Linked DNA regions of Homo sapiens: region 2 is linked to region 1. Evidence: fine-mapped expression QTL. A gene starts in region 1. The other region holds a variant in brackets. All regions are shown on one strand. Distances are from middle to middle. Region 1 holds the start of POMGNT2 (protein O-linked mannose N-acetylglucosaminyltransferase 2 (beta 1,4-)). Region 2 overlaps POMGNT2 (protein O-linked mannose N-acetylglucosaminyltransferase 2 (beta 1,4-)).

The links. PIP is the estimated chance that this variant, and not a neighbour inherited with it, causes the effect.
Region 2: its variant is the best candidate, but not a certain one, in a credible set for the expression of POMGNT2 in nucleus accumbens (GTEx, PIP 0.62).

Annotation. Positions count from the first base shown.
Region 1 is chr3:43,101,712-43,110,204 of GRCh38, reverse strand. POMGNT2 (protein O-linked mannose N-acetylglucosaminyltransferase 2 (beta 1,4-)) reads left to right here and starts at 4,126. Exons shown (of 2, transcript NM_032806.6): 1 at 4,126-4,369. RefSeq lists a silencer at 4,039-4,358.
Region 2 is chr3:43,076,904-43,085,396 of GRCh38, reverse strand. POMGNT2 (protein O-linked mannose N-acetylglucosaminyltransferase 2 (beta 1,4-)) reads left to right here. Exons shown (of 2, transcript NM_032806.6): 2 at 3,861-6,163. The coding sequence starts at 3,966. The coding sequence ends at 5,708. Among named protein-coding and RNA genes, the nearest start is that of POMGNT2-AS1, 4.9 kb to the left of the region's middle. RefSeq lists enhancers at 4,769-5,268, 5,269-5,770. The variant C/T (reference allele first, on the strand shown) is at 3,923.

The DNA of each region.
Region 1 (8,493 bases):
GGGCTGCTGGCTGGTATACCCATTGTTATGGACTGAATGGTATCCCCCTGCCCTCGAATTCATATGCGGAAGCCCAAACCTTCAATACGTCAGAACATGACTGTACTTGGAGATATGGCCTTTGAGAGGTAATTGGGTTAAAATGAGGTGATTAGGCTCATTTTTGGGTTAGGCCATAATCCAATCTGACTGGTATACTCATAAGAAGAGGAGATTGGGACACACAAGAGACACCAAGGATGGGCATCCATAGGGAAAAGGCATGTGGGGGCTCAGTAAGAAGGCGGCCATCCTCAAGCTATGGAGAGAGGCCTCAGAAGACACCAACCCTGCTGACACCTCGATCTTGGACTTCCAACCTCCAGAACGGTGAGAAGTAAATCTCTGTTTTTTAAGCTGCCCAGTCTGAAATTTTGGTATGGCAGCTCTAACACATTAATACACTCATGCAGGTCCTATCCATGTAACCTGAGCTTCCTCACAACATGGTGAATCTGTTCCCAAGGCAACCAGAGAGAGACAGAGAGAGGATGTACCACTTTTATGACCCAGTTTCAGAAGTCACATAGCATCACTTCTGACATTTTCTGTTCATTGAAGTGAGTTACTAAGTTATGCCCATATTTGAGGGAAGGGAACTAGACTCCCCCTTTCAAAGGAAAAATAGTCAAATAATTTGCAGACATATTTAAAAACCATCCCAATCTTTACCATCACCACCATGTTCATCATGCAGATTTTAAGATCCTAGCAGGCCAGCCAGGTGGAGGTGTGTATGCCCCAAGCAACTTGGATTGGGAATGTGGATCTGGAATTCAGGGCTAGAGATGTGGGTTTGGAAGGCATCCACACAGAGAAATAGAAAGGGAATATGACCCCAGACAAAGGGAGAGGGCTTGGACTTGAGGAATGCCTAACTCAGCTTGGCATGCATGAATATGGATTTAAAATGCTGGGAAAGACCTCAAAAAGCCAGCTACCTAAGCCACCTTGGATATTTAATAAAAAGAAATGTACTAGTTTTTTCCAGTCTACTAAAGCTTCCTACCAGCAATGCTCCACAGCCAGAATAGTTTTCAAAACATGATGGACTCAAAGATGATCAGTGTCTGCAAACTGGGTCCTAGGTGACTTACAGGCCATCCTGTTAGATCCTATCCAGGAGATTCAGCTTTGGCCAGAACCCAATCCCTGTCCACCTCCAGCAAGGGGCTGCTCTCTTGGACTGTTAGGTGCCTCTTTCTATCAGTGACTATGACTGGCTATCTTATAGAGACCCATAAACTCAACATAGGAGCTTTTTAAAACTTAGAAGTTTTTTAAACAACTTATATTTAAAATAACAAAACAATATATGTTCACTTCAGAATAAATTCATACAGGTAACCAGCAAGATGACAATAAAAAAACACCCATAGTCTTACCACCCTGGGTCATGGCTCATTGAAATTTTGCTGATATCCTTCTGTGCTCTGTGCTGTTACTGTGCACAAATATATTCTTTTTAAAAATGGGATCTTATGGAATATTTTATACTTTTTTCATTAAATATGATATAATGTGAAATGTCTTCCACTCTATTAAGTAAATACTATTTTGCAGCATCTTTTCAATGATTTCTGAGATGATCTGTGATTTTACTTAATCCTGCATGACTGAGGAATTAAGCAGTTTCCAAATTTGTTTTTTTTCCTACTTTTTATCTTGAAATAATTATAGATTTGTGAAAATCTATAATAAGATAGTACAGAGAGGAATCTCTTCATCCAGTTTCCCCCAATGGTTACATTGTACGTAATTATAATACAATATAAAAATCAGGAATTTAACCTTGATAGAAAGTTTGTGTGTAGTTTTAGTCATTTTATCACATGTGTAGATTTGTGTAACCACTACCACAATCAAGACAAAGAACTATTTCATCAGTACAAAGGCTTCCCTTCTGTTACCCTTATATATTCACACCTACACCCTGTCTTCAACCTCTGACAACCACTAATATTTTCTCCATCTCTATAGTTTTGTCATTTCAAGAATGTTATACAAATGGCAACCAGAGTATGTAACCTTTTGAGACTGACTTTTTTTCACCCAGCATAATGCCCAAGTTGTGGCATGTGTCAATTGTGCCTTTCTATTGTTGAATGATATTCTTTATATAGATGTAATCACAGTTTATTTAACCATTCACCTATCGAGGGGCATTTTGTTTGTTGACAGTTTTTGACAATTACAAATAAAGAAAGTAGGAACAATTGTGTACAAGTTTGTGTGTTAACATAAGTTTCCATTTCTCTGGAATAGATGCTCAGGAGTGTGATTGATGAGTCATATGGGAAGCATATGTTTAGTTTTTTAAAAGAAACTACCATGATATACCCATCTGTGAGTAATATATGAGAGATCCAGTTCTGTGCATACTCACCAGCATTTGCTATTTTATTTTTTAAGCTGTTTTGTAGTTGTTGTTGTTGTTTGTTTGTTTTTGAGATGGAGTCTTGCTCTGTAGCCCAGACTGGAGTGCAGTGGCGCGATCTCGGTTCACTGCAACCTCCGCCTCCTGGGTTCAAGTGATTCTCCCCTGCCTCAGCCTCCTGAGTAGCCGGGTTTACAGACGCGCACCAACACATCCAGCTAATTTTTGTATTTTTAGTAGAGACGAGGTTTCACCATGTTGGCCAGGCTGGTCTTGAACTCCTGACCTCGTGATTCGCCAGCCATGGCCTCCCAAAGTGCTGGCATTACAGGCATGAGCCACCGCGCCCTGCCTTTTTAAGCTGTTTTAAATAGGTGTATGGTGATATCTCAGCATAGTCTTAATTTGCATTTCCTTTATGGCTAGTGATGAACATCTGTCCTTATTTGCCATCTGTATAACTACTTTGGTAAAATATATATTAATGTCTTCTGTATATTTAAAAACTTATGATCCAGGATACAGTTTATCTTAATATATATACCAAGGTTGCTTGAAAAGAATGTGTATTCTGTTGGTGGGTGAAGTATTATGTAAATATCAATTAGATTAGGATGGTATTAGTGTTGATCTTTTCTATATCCTTGCTGACTTTCTGTCTAGTGTTCTATCAGTTGTTGAGAGAGGGATGCTGAAGTTTCCAATTACAGTTGCAGAGTTGTCTATTTCTAATTATGGTTCTATCATTTGATTTATTTATGTTAAGGCTATGTCGTTAGGTGTATCCACATTTAGAATTATGTCTTCTTGGTGAATTGAACCTTTTATCATTATATAATTATCCCTTTTTTATTCTTGGTAATTTTCCTTGCTGTCAATTCTACTCTCTCTGAAAGTAATATCACCACTTCAGCCTTTCAGTTTATTATCATCTAAACAACACTATTCAGCCTTTGCAGTCATCCACAATTATTAGAATTTCTTGGTTAGAGGCTTTTGACTACATGTTTTTAAAGGTTTTTGGCTGTATTGACAAATTGCCCTGCAAAAATTTACCAACTTAATACCTTAACATTTGGGCTAATTTAAAATAATCATAAATTAAAGTCAGGGCTTTCCCAATTTGATAGGTAGAAATCTTATAACTCTATGGAGGTGGAGTTGGTGGTGGTAGGTGCATCTCTAGATGACTTAAGTTCAAAAAAAGTCAAGAGATCTAAAAAAGAAGTCAAAAGATCTAAAATTCATAACTCAAGAAATAGGGGCATATGTATATTCGGAGAATCCGCGGGAATGCCAGATGCCACAGCCATAAGTAGCTGCCCTTGAGGACTGGACAGCCAGGACTGGACGGTGGGATAAGGTGACAGCTGGTTAATGGAATGGTGCCGCAGAGGACTGGTGCTTTTGTAAGTTCTCTGTAGCATTACAATTTTTAAAAGCATGTAAACGTATTAATTACCTTGACTTTACAATGACATTTGGTTGTTGGTTAAACTTGCATTTAAATTTATTATCAGAACTGCCATAACTGTGTAATCCTAACACTAAGTAAAACTCAGCCTCTCGGCGCAAATTATCACTCCCAACATTCCGCAGGCTGGTGGCGGCGCGGGCTGTCCTCGTACGCAAAACTACACCTCCCAGGATTCCGCGAGCCAAGGTTGTGGCCGGGGCCAGGGCAACCGAACTCGCGGCTCTGCGCAGGCGCACAGGCTCCGCGCCGGGCTCGCCCGCCGGGCAGGCGCACGGCGGACACCTGCGAGCCTGGAGGTGGCGGTCGCTGCGAACCCGGCGGCGCGGCCAAACCTGTGCTGGCTGCCTGGGCCTTCTGGGCCTCCTGGGCCAGAAGCTGGCGCTGGGGGCGGCGGCGGGGTGGGAAAGCGGCGCCGCCGTGGGGCCTCCTGGACGCGTCGGCGGAGGTGGCTTCGTCCCGCGGAGTCCAGGCTTCAGGTAAGACGCGCGCGCGCTTGGGGCTGGAGCGGACTCCGACACCCGCCTGGGACTTGAAGTGGAGGTGTCGAACCCTCGGCCCCCTGGAGGGGACGACGCGGTGCTGGGCCCCGGGGTGAGGGGGAGGTTCTAGGACGCCTTCGGGATCCAGGAGAGTTTGCAGAACTGAGGGGTGACGTGTGAAGCGAGCTGAGGGAGGCGCGGGAGGTGGGCGGGGCGGGGGTGGACCCTCAGGGTCGGGGGCCGGGGATTGGGGGTCGGGGGCCGGGGGCCGGGGACCTGGGCAACGCCCTGGGGCTTGCCAGTTCGAGCCCTCAGCTCGTGGCAGGCACTGGCGTCGGGTCCTCAGGCCCTTTTGCTTTGGGAGGTGATGGGTGGTGCACATTTGGCGGGGGTGGTGGGGAGCCACGCGAGGTGCGCGGAGCGGGCCTGGGCCTCCCCAACTGCCTTTGAAGGCAGAACCCCGGCAGGCCTGCAGCTGATTCCTGGGCGCTTTGGGGGCCAGTAGGGCACCTACCATGTGTGTCCGGTGGTAAGAGCTTGCCACGGCCTGCTTGGCAGTGCCAGAGTAGCCTCTGAAGAAGGAACCCAGTGAACTCCTGACTCCATGTGTGTGTTTAGGAACCCGTCTCCAGCTCACTGATGGGAACTCTCTGCTAAAGTATGTGACCGTCAGGCCAGAGTCTTGCACCAGGTGCAGGGCGACCAGTGTCTGCCTACTTTATTGCCAGCCAACACTTAGAGCGTACTCTTGGGAGAAGCAAGGCTCCGCGTGGAAAAGGATGACTTCAGGGTTATGGGGCGAGCTTGATAGGACTTAGTAGCTAAGAGCATAGACAGAGGAGGTTTCATTCACCAAATGTTTACTACAATATGTGCCCCGCCTTCAAATCTTGGTTCTCGGCTACTAGCGGTGTGCGTTTAAGCAAGTCACTTATCCTCTCTTAGCCTCTGTTTCTTTCTCTGTGAAGTGGAGATGAAAGTACAGTGCCTTTATCACGGGGTTGCAGTGGGGATGAAATAGTGCCAGGCAAGTCCTCAGCCCAGTATGTCTAACAGTAAGTGTGTGGCAAATATCAGCAGTCGTGGTGACTAACGACAGAAAGTGTTAGAGGTGCTTGGAGTCCAGGTTCATCTTTAATGGTACTAGCTGCCCTCTCTGGCTCTCATGAATCTTGCAGATCTTCCAGCTCATCCTTTCAATATTAATTTTGAGGAATCTCAGTCCCTGCAGAGCTAGGAAAGAGCATAGGTCCCCTCATCCCCAGGGGTGGTCAGCACGTTCCTTCCTGAGCCTTGGGCCCCTGCGAGAACGAGAAGGAGAGTGGAGATCTTCAGCAGAAAGGAGGGCATGGTGCTGGTGGCTGGGCCCACCGTGGCCATGTAAGCATGCTAGTTGGCAAGTTCTTGCTCTGAGCCTTGCTTTAGAAAATATTTAGCAATAAACAAAGCCTTCTAGTAAATATTGCACTAACTAGAAAATTAGATTACCAAATCCCCCATTCCAAGGGTCCTTGCCAATCTCAGCTTGGTTGTCAGTGGGATACTTTCCCCCCAGGACCTACCAATCACGTGATTCCCAGGGTTTCTTAAATTGGATGAAATAATGAATGTGAAAGGTGGAACCTGCAAATGTCATCACGGGCTTTGGAGTCCGTCTTGGTTTTGAATCCTAACCCCTCTACTTAATTGCTGTGTATCACTGGGCAATTCACTTAATGCCTCTAAGCATACCTTCTTAAATGTGAAATTGAATTAATAGCATTTACTTCAGGTAGTGGGGAATAAATGAGATAATGCGTGTAAAACAGTTAGCACTGTGCCTGGCTGAGAGTGAAAGCCAGTGAACAGGAGTTATTTTACCATTACGATTAATAATAATATTAGAAAAATAATTGTCAGACATGGTGTTTTGCCTTTGCTGTCTCTTTGAATTCACAAAACTACCCTGTGAAGTAGGTATAATTGTGTTTTTCAAGCCAGGAAGTGAAGGCTTGGAGAGGTAAAGAATTGGCCTAAGGTCACTTAGCTGCTAAGTGACAGGGATGGGAATTCATATCCTGGCATCTCCAGCTCCAGAACTGGTGCCATGTAATTCTCCTTCTCTGCTGCCCATCGTCCTTGCTGTTCTTGCATTCTTGAAGCCCAGTTATGACCTGGGGCAGCCTCCAGTCTTGCAGCAGGGAGTCTTCCCGCACCAAGTGGGTCAGAGGCAGGACCCTGCAGCCTGGCTGTGTGTTTCCTCTCTGTGGCTGGTGTTGGATGCATGGTGAAGCTGTAGGGGACAGTCCCTGAGTGAGTTCAGGGGAGGAGGTGTTAGGAAGAGGCAGCCCAGGCAAGCCCTGTCGCCTCTTTAGGGTCTCATCACTGGACAGCAGGGCTGGGTGAGGGGGCAGTGCTGGGTGAGGGTGCAGGCTGGGTGGGATCTGGGAAGCTTGTGTATGAGAAGAAATGCCTTCGTTTAGCTCCTGGGAAATGTTCTGGGGCTGCATAATTCTCTGAGCCTTATCTTTGCTTTGTGAGGGAGAGCAGCCCTTGAGCTGTGGATAAGGGAGGAGAAGGAGCCCTGGACTGAGAGCCAACATTCTGCCATTTTAATCCTGGCTGCCTGTGAGAGCTCACACTGCCTCTCCAGACCTCTTTTATGAAATAAAGAGTTGGAGGAAATCATTTCTAAGGGTTCTTGTAGCTCTAAAGGGCAGTGGTTTTGTAATTCTAAATTGATGGCCTAACCCTCTCAGCACAGTACCAGGGCACATGGGATAAATTATCACACTAGTATGTTACTTAGACTCTCCTTAGGGTGAGAGAATGGCCACAGCTCCCTAAGCCACCTGTCACAGCTGGGTACCCTCTGCCTGGCTGGGTGGGGAGGAATTACAGCAAGAAGCCTTGGGTTGCTAAGTTACAGTCCAGGGCCTGTGGTTCTACATTTCCAGGGCCACCACACCTGCTCTGCCCTTGACTAATAAAAACTCACTGCTCTACAGTCTACTCTGCTTATCTGCCATTGAGTGTTCCTCCAAGTCTGATGACAGATGAGCACGGTACTAAGAACAAGACCTTAGTGAGAGGCAGGTTCAAATCCTGGTGGCCCTTCTTGAGCTTTAAGACCTTAAGCAAGGTACTTAACTCCACTAAAACTTGGTTTTCTCATGTTAAAAGAAAATGGGGATAATATTGGTACTGCATTGGAGGGTGAGGCTTAAATGAAATAGGTCAGGAAAAAGGCTTAAGACAGCGCCTCTCGCATAGTAGGTGCTCAGTAAAGTAAGATGGTGAGACCATTCATCTTTATCCCCTACCCAGAGGCCAACATCCTTTTTTTCTTAGTTAACCTGGACAAGTCCTTTTGTTTTCTCTGGCTTCCCATGTCTGCACTGGTACATACTCCAGCACCTCTAAGAGAATCAGATCTTTCACTCTGCCAGTGGTGACTGCCATTGGTACAAGCTTATGCTACAAATTTATCTGTTTTCTCCATTCTGAAAAGGCTAAGAGAAGGCCCCTTCTTTGCTGTGTAGTTGCTCCTCAGCCCTGAGCTAAGCCTTAGGAAGGGACTGGGGACCTGGTCTGCTGTATTGCCACACCCAGTGATGAAACACACCCCGGGGTCCTTTGACAGTGGAGGTTTGTGGCAGGAATCATGGCACATCCTGGAGTGGCATCTGGAGTTGCCACAGTTGTGCTGGGTCCCAGAGCTTCCAAGAGAGTCACACAGTAGCCATTGTAAGGAACTGGAGATGCTGTCCAAATTTGCTCTGTTCAGGGGCTTCTTTCTCGGGGGACCTACCTCCTCTCTGCTGGCCTGCAGGGATGGCCATCTCCCTATGTCCTCTACTGGTGGCTGCTTTAGACCCAGACTCCATCCTTAGTCCATTTAGCTGTGGCCAAGAGACCTGGACTCGTTTCTTGCCACTCCCACACCACAAATGGTGCACTTTGTGTGGGAAGGAATGGGTTGGGGCAACTTGTCTCAAAAGGGAGCTTAGAGTCTGGCGGACTTCTCAGATTGTCCCAGAGCTTAGGCTTATGCATCATCTTAGCAAAAGGTAGGAACAGAATTTATTTAGCCTTTACTGATACTTATGGGGAGGGTTATTCTCAATTGAATTAGTTGTTTA
Region 2 (8,493 bases), 25 kb after region 1:
TCACACCAGGTCCTTCCCACAACATGTGGGAATTATGGGAGCTACAAGATGAGATTTGGATGGGGACACAGAGCCAAACCATATCAGATAGCCTAGACTTCCACCTTTGCCTAGGGGTAACCAGCTGCCCCACACCCTCCCCACTTGATGGGAAGCCTAGACTTTCACGACCGCCTAGTAGTAACATACGTCCTTCACTACCATAGTCCTCTTGGGGCCTAGACTTCCATCCACACCCCAGGGTGTCATTGGAGGCCAACTGCAGAGCCTGGGTTTTGACACCCTGACACACACTCTGTGCTGAGTATCCCTCCCCCTCCCAGCCACGATGGTATTGGTGGAGGCTGAGTAGGGAGCCTGGATGCCCACCCCCGCCCAACAGTAAAGAGTCAATGCTCTCCTTTCCCCCACCAGTACAGTTTTAACAGAAGCTACTAAAATAGAAGATTTAAGTAAGATCCAGAGTATCATAACATTATGACCGAAATGTCCAGGATAAGTTTTAGCAAAAAAAAAGAAGTTATAAAAACTAAATGGAAATTTTAGATATGAAAAATAGAGTAAGCAGAATTTTAAAATTACTGAATGGGCTCAATCAGGAATAAAAAGGACACAGGAAAGAATCAGCGAACATGAAGCCAGAATGATAGAAATCATCCAGTCTGAACAACAGGGAGAAAAAATACCGGAAAAAAATTAACAGAGCTTCAGAGATCTGTGGGACAGTACAATTTTTTTTTTTTTTTTTGAGACGGAGTCTCGCTCTGTCTGTCACCCAGGCTGGAGTGCAGTGGTGCGATCTCGGCTCACTGCAAGCTCCACCTCCTGGGTTCATGCCATTCTCCTGCCTCAGTCTCCCGAGTAGCTGGGACTACAGGCGCCCGCCACCATGCCTGGCTAATTTTTTGTATTTTTAGTAGACATGGGGTTTCACCATGTTAGCCAGGGTGGTCTCGAACTCCTGACCTCGTGATCCACCCGCCTTGGCCTCCCAAAGTGCTGGGATTACAGGTGTGAACCACCGCCCCTGGCCAATACAATTTTTTTTTTTTAATCTAGCATTGGTGTAATTGGAGTCCTAGGAGAGCAGTGTGGGGCTGAAAAAGTTTTCAAGGAAATAATGGCTATTTCCCACATTTGGGGGAAGGCATGAGCCTACAGATTCAAGAATCTGAGCAAACCCCAAAGAGGATAAACCCAAAGAAACCCACACCAAGGCACCTCAGAGTCAAACTTTTGAAAACTCAACAAAATCTTAAGAGCAGCAGGAGACAATGCATTCCCTCCAGGGAAAAACAATTCGAAGGGTAGCAGTTCCTCATCAGCAGTCACAGAGGCCAGAGGAGGTGTCACAGCATCATTTTTCACATACTGAAAGAAGGAAAATCTGTACCCCAAATTCTATACGCAGTGAAAATATCCTTTAGGAATGAAGCTAAAATCAGACATTTCGACATGAAGGAAAACTAAGAGAATTTGTTGCCAGGAAGTTGACCTTAAAAGAATAGTGAACTAACAGAAGTTCTTCAAAGAAGGGATATAGGAATGGAAGGAAACCTGGAACATCAGGAATGAGGGACGAACATAAAGAGTAAAAATATGGGTGAATATAATAGATGATCCTTTCCCTCTTGAGGAAATCATACTTGACAGTTGAAGCCAAAATTACTGTCTGATGTGGGTCTCATTATATGTAGAGGAAACACATAAGACAATTATAAAGGAACCTAGGTGGAGGTAAAGTTTCTACACTTATTCGAAACGTAAAATGTCAATACCAGTAGACTGTGATAAGTTACAGATTATAGTATGATGCCTAGAGCAACCACTAGAAAATCTATATCAAGGGATATACTCAAAAACACTACTGATAAATCAAAGTGGAATTCAAGTAATTCACAAGAAGGCAGGAAATAAAAGAAACAAATAATGCAGATGCCTGAGCCATACTCCAGACCTACTGAATCAGAACCTCCAGGACTGGTGCCTGGGAATATGGATTTTTATTTAGCAACTACTCCTGAGGATTCCAGTAATCAGCCAGGCTTGAGAACATCTGGAGTAGACCAGTATTTTTTAAACAGTAAGTTGCCAACCTGGTGAGTAGGTCGGAAAGTTAATTAAGATGATTATGGGCAGGTTTTTTGTTTTGTTTTGTTTCTGTTGTTGTTAATGAACTTAGAATACAGTGTACTAGAAAAAAAAAGCTAGAATGTATGATACTTGGTCACGGTAATTTTCATTTCCTGAAGTTTGGAGGTGGGGAGTATATGATATATTCATATGTGTGGGCCCAACCTTTGGATAAGAGTAGGCCAGAAGAGATCTCATGCCTCCAGGAATGACCTTCAACTAAGTAATGCCCAACAGGAGTTGATAGACATGTATCCCAGCTTCCATACTATATCCAGCATATGATCATGGGAGGAAGGCTACACATGGCATTAACTGCTCATTAATGTACCCTGTATGTGTTGGCTTTGGTCCCTTCTCTGTTCTCACTTTCCCATTCCCCTACACGTGTTTCATGGGATAATTTCTCAAACTGTTTTGATTCAAATCCTTGCCCCTGACTCTACTTCTTAGGGAACCTAGCTAAAGACACCTTCTCTTTCTAGGCAAGATGCACTTGGATTCTTTTCATTGCAGGGAGGCAGGAATTGCATCAGGACCTAGCCACAAGGGAATAAAGGAGCAGCTACTCCCTCCCGGTGCAGTGCCCTGCAGGTGTCAGCTGTTACCTGTGCTGCTCCTGTGTCACAAAGGATGAGCTTCTTCAACTGTCTGAATAATCCTGGGTCCCAGAGCAGGCATGATACCCTTCACAATATCGCAAGAAGAGGGAGTAAATGCTTACCCCTAGCCAGGCCTCTCTGTCAGTGTGTGTATATGGGAGAGGGCATTTAAAACCCTATTGGTTTTTTTTGCCTCAGTACACAAAACATTTTTCAATGATGATACCCAGATACAATTATCTTACCACTGAGGGGACAAGTTTCTACCCTCCTCCTAAGGGATTCTGAAAGCCAGCAGGCATGATTTCTAAAGGAGCTTTAAGCAGGAGCAAAGCTTAGCTGACCATACGTGTGTGTGTCTCTCAAAGGCGGCATACTGGGGTCTTGGTGTGCAACCTGGGAACAGTGTTCACAGATCTCCAATGCCAGTTGTTCTCATTTAAGGAAAAGTCATTACCCAGAGTCCAGGAATGTCAGGCCCCTGCAAGGGATTTTCCTATGGCCTGTCTTTCCTATGGCCTCTCTTTGTTAGCTTTTGCTGCAGCAGTGCTTCATCACAAACAGCCCCAGAATTTCAGGGATGTTTAATCAGCTGTTGCTCAGCCCTGATGTCTATGTGTTGGCTGATCTTGGCTGCGTTTGGCTGATCGCACTGCTGCTCTTGGCTGGGCCCACTCAGTCATGAGGGATCAGCTGAACTAGAACAGGGCATGGCCGGAGCAGTTCTGCTTCATGCGTATCTCGCTCCTCTTGGGGCCAGCAAGTTAGCCTGAATACATTCTTCTTATGGCAGTGTCATAAAGAGGGCAAGGCCAGCCCAAACACTTTCCAAACCTTTGATTATGTTCTGTCTGCTGACATCTCACTGGCCAAAGCAAGTTAAATGGCTAAGCCCAAAGTCGGGTGTGGGGATGCACTTTCCAACATGGAGGCGATGGGGAGGGAGAGAATATTTTAAACAATGGTCTAATCTACCACGCCTACCAATGTGCACAATGGCTGCAAGGATCCAGTGCTGTAGCGGGCACACAGAGCCTAGCTACCGTGCCTGGCACATAGCAGGAGCTTGTAATGATGCCAGGAAGACTGCCAATTCCTTTTTCTTTTCCTTCTCTCCTCCTGCAGGCTTTCACCAGTTCTCAGGATGCCCATAGGGATGGGTGAAGCCTGCCTGGCCTGTGGTGCTT[C/T]CCAGTGGCCGTCATCTCATTAGGGCCCCACAGTGGCATTAGGATGCACCTCTCGGCGGTGTTCAACGCCCTCCTGGTGTCGGTGCTGGCAGCGGTCCTGTGGAAGCATGTGCGGCTGCGTGAGCATGCAGCCACACTGGAGGAGGAGCTGGCCCTCAGCCGACAGGCCACAGAGCCAGCCCCAGCACTGAGGATCGACTACCCGAAGGCACTGCAGATCCTGATGGAGGGCGGCACACACATGGTGTGCACGGGCCGCACGCACACAGACCGCATCTGCCGCTTCAAGTGGCTCTGCTACTCCAACGAGGCTGAGGAGTTCATCTTCTTCCATGGCAACACCTCTGTCATGCTGCCCAACCTGGGCTCCCGGCGCTTCCAGCCAGCCCTGCTCGACCTATCCACCGTGGAGGACCACAACACTCAGTACTTCAACTTCGTGGAGCTGCCTGCTGCTGCCCTGCGCTTCATGCCCAAGCCGGTGTTCGTGCCAGACGTGGCCCTCATCGCCAACCGCTTCAACCCCGACAACCTCATGCACGTCTTTCATGACGACCTGCTGCCACTCTTCTACACCCTGCGGCAGTTTCCCGGCCTGGCCCACGAGGCACGGCTCTTCTTCATGGAGGGCTGGGGCGAGGGTGCACACTTCGACCTCTACAAGCTGCTCAGCCCCAAGCAGCCTCTCCTGCGGGCACAGCTGAAGACCCTGGGCCGGCTGCTGTGCTTCTCCCATGCTTTTGTGGGCCTCTCCAAGATCACTACCTGGTACCAGTATGGCTTTGTGCAGCCCCAGGGCCCGAAGGCCAACATCCTCGTCTCAGGCAATGAGATCCGGCAGTTTGCACGGTTCATGACAGAAAAGCTGAACGTGAGCCACACAGGAGTCCCCCTAGGCGAGGAGTACATTCTGGTCTTTAGCCGAACCCAGAACAGACTCATTCTGAATGAGGCAGAGCTGCTGCTGGCACTGGCCCAGGAGTTCCAGATGAAGACAGTGACAGTGTCCCTGGAGGACCACACCTTTGCTGATGTCGTGCGGCTGGTCAGCAATGCCTCCATGCTGGTCAGCATGCATGGGGCCCAGCTGGTCACCACCCTCTTCCTGCCCCGTGGGGCAACTGTGGTAGAGCTCTTCCCATATGCTGTCAATCCCGACCACTACACTCCCTATAAGACGCTGGCCATGCTGCCTGGCATGGACCTCCAGTATGTAGCCTGGCGGAACATGATGCCAGAGAACACAGTCACACACCCTGAGCGGCCCTGGGATCAGGGGGGCATCACCCATCTGGACCGGGCTGAGCAAGCCCGTATCCTGCAAAGCCGTGAGGTCCCACGGCATCTCTGTTGCCGGAACCCCGAGTGGCTCTTCCGAATCTACCAGGACACCAAGGTGGACATCCCGTCCCTCATTCAAACCATACGGCGCGTGGTGAAGGGCCGGCCAGGACCACGGAAGCAGAAGTGGACAGTCGGCCTATATCCAGGCAAGGTGCGGGAGGCACGGTGCCAGGCGTCAGTGCATGGCGCCTCCGAGGCCCGCCTCACTGTCTCCTGGCAGATCCCATGGAACCTTAAATACCTGAAGGTGAGGGAGGTGAAGTACGAGGTGTGGCTGCAGGAGCAGGGGGAGAACACCTACGTGCCTTACATCCTGGCTCTGCAGAACCACACCTTCACTGAGAACATCAAGCCCTTCACCACCTACCTGGTGTGGGTCCGCTGCATCTTCAACAAGATCCTCCTGGGACCCTTTGCAGATGTGCTGGTGTGCAACACGTAGCGAGCAGGCCACAGCCTGGCCTCGGGAAGGTGGCTCCTGCAGTTCAGCGTCCCTGGGCCCATTAATCCCACTGTGGAGACTTCTGGGAACTATTTATTGAGCAGGCCTGTGCCTCCACATCATCTTGTTGTCTCTGGGGTGTGGTGTCACAGCACTCCTCTTTGCCCTAGAGATAAGGGACCTGACTTCCCCTTCTCCCATCCTGAACATTTGTACCCCTGGAGAAGTTCCTTAGCAGGGAGGAGGAAGAGGAGAGGAGGAAGCAAAGAATCACAAGGAACCTCTGGCTAGGTGATCCTGATGTTTCCTACTGAGTTTTTCTGGTATCCAGATTTCTGGAAACCGAGTAATCATGTACTGTTTGATTGGGTGGTTCATCTGCTTCCATCCCAGTGAAATTTACCTGTAGCCCAGTGAAGGGTGTGTTTGGAACATTCATTAAATGATTCTAAGCATCTTGGTCAAGTCTTCTTATTGGATGGGAGGAAGGGGAGCTGGTCGTCAAAACCCAGGTGCCCTTTAATCTTGATTGTTAGCTAGGGAGACGTGGCAATGGGAAAGCGCCCAGGATGGCAAAGTGAGCAAGCTGGTTGGATTTCATCTTGACTAGCTGGACTAATATCACAGTTCCACCTACATGGGATAAAAGCCTAGAAGTAGGTAGGAGAGGGCTGAGGGGAGGAAGAGCTGTATCCACCATGGGTTTTTTTTTGGGCTCAACTAGACATTAAGACTCGCAAGACCTGGACAGATCATACCTGGCATCAGAGTTTCTTAGAAGGATGGAGAGAGATGCTCAGCATGCCAGCAGGGCCATGTCAGCAGTTCCCTTCCACAGGAGCAGTCCTTACATCAGTACTCCTGAGGGCCACCTTGATTCAGAAGCCCATGCCCCATAGGAGTCAATGTGTTTTCAACAACCCACAATCAGAGTTCCCAGGGTCCCTCAAGGGACATGCCCAGTTATGAGTTTCTGCACTTAGGGAAGCCTAAGGCCATGGTTTCTTACCAGATGGTATAGCTTATTCTTTGTCCTTCCAGCCCAGGTGTAGCTTATCAATCAGAGGTCAAAAACTCCCATGGGCAGTTTGGCCTAATACTGTACCTGACATTCAGCTAACTGGCTTGTCTGGCTTCCATGGGAGCAGAGCTAGAAAGTTAGCCCAAGATAAAATCTGTCCTGAAGAAAGAGGAGTTTTGGCCTTTTATTGTTGGGGAGACCTGCTGCAGGTCTGACTCCTGTAAGGGGGAGAGGGAGAGAAGCTGGGGAGAGGAGGTAGAGCCTCAGGCTGTAGCTCAGTGCTGAGAACCTCTCAGCAGGCTGATCGGGGAGTTTTGAGCCAAAGGTGTCCATTAGATAAGTATTCCCTCCCACCCGCCGATGCTAGTCGTCACCTGGGAGCCGCAGTGGGAAGTGTGGCCTCAGCATCAGTACCTTGGTGGATTCAGCATGGCAGCTGAGCCATCCCTTGTTCTCTGCTGCAGGAGATCTGAATGGTGCATTTTCATGGTCGCCATGGATCTTTATGACATTCCTTTCATCCAGAATATCTTTCTCCCTAACTGTAGCTTCCATCTGCTGCCACCATAAACTGCCATGAGAATCCACACATCAAGACTCAGCTCAAAGCCAGAGATCTCATACACTGCTGGGGCTGGGGGAGTGAAATGGTACAACCACTTGGAAAACCATTTGGCAGTTTTTACTAAAGCTGAGCACTTAGTTGTCCTATCTCTCAGCAATTCCACTTCTTGAGATATATACCCAAGAGAAATGAGTGCTTATGTCAGCAAAAAGACATGTCTTAAAATGTCCATGGTTCTACTCTTAATGGCCAAACACCATAAACAATTCAAGTGTCCATCAACAGGTATATTCATACAATGGACACAACAATTTTAAAAAGAATGAAGTGAATCTCAGACAACATTGAGTAAAAGAAGGCAGACCCAAAATACTTACTGTATGGTTCCATTTGTATGAAGTCCTAGAACAGGAATACAAACTTATGGCGATGGAAGTCAGAATGGTGGTTACCGGGAAAGGAGGTAAAGACTGGGATGGACACAAGGGGGTTGTGGGTTGGCAACATTGTGGTCTTGGATGGTGGTTGCACCGTGGACATTGAGGAAAGCCATCATCCTGCTTACACGGTACATTAGTGCACTCACTCACCTCTGTGCTTTCTGTATGGCACACCTTGATTTAAAAGGAAGACCACTTAGCCCAAGGGCCAGCTCTCCTGAAAACCCAGTTTGTCACACCCAAAAAGCCTTAACTCTGCTGGCCCCGCCACTGTCTCCCAGGAAGCACTTACCTCTCCGCAAGACCTTGCTCACAGGCTGGGAGCTCAGTGAGGGTTTGTGTCATGTGGGTCACAGCCAAGCGAAAGCTCAATGAATGGTTCCTTGCCTCAATGAATATGTGTATCTCTGCCTTTGTCCAAACTTTTTTACAAATTGGGAATCCGCTTTATGTGAAATTTTGCCCCCCTCTTTTTTTTCCTCTTTAACATTAAGACATGAACACTCTGCCATGTCACTGATGACTATTCTTTGGAAACAAGACTTTGGTTAGCTAGAGAACGTTGTGTACAATCACTAGGAAATTAGCCTCCTTCCCCCAGGCTCCATGGAGGAGCTGGATCCATGCCCAGCAGCCCAGGCCACCCCTTGATAGCACTGAATAGTAGCAGCATTTTTTCTTTTGCTGCTGCTGCTTTTTTTAAAAAAAACCATTTATTGGTGTTTATGGTGAAATACTCAGATCGTCAGTGTAGAGTTA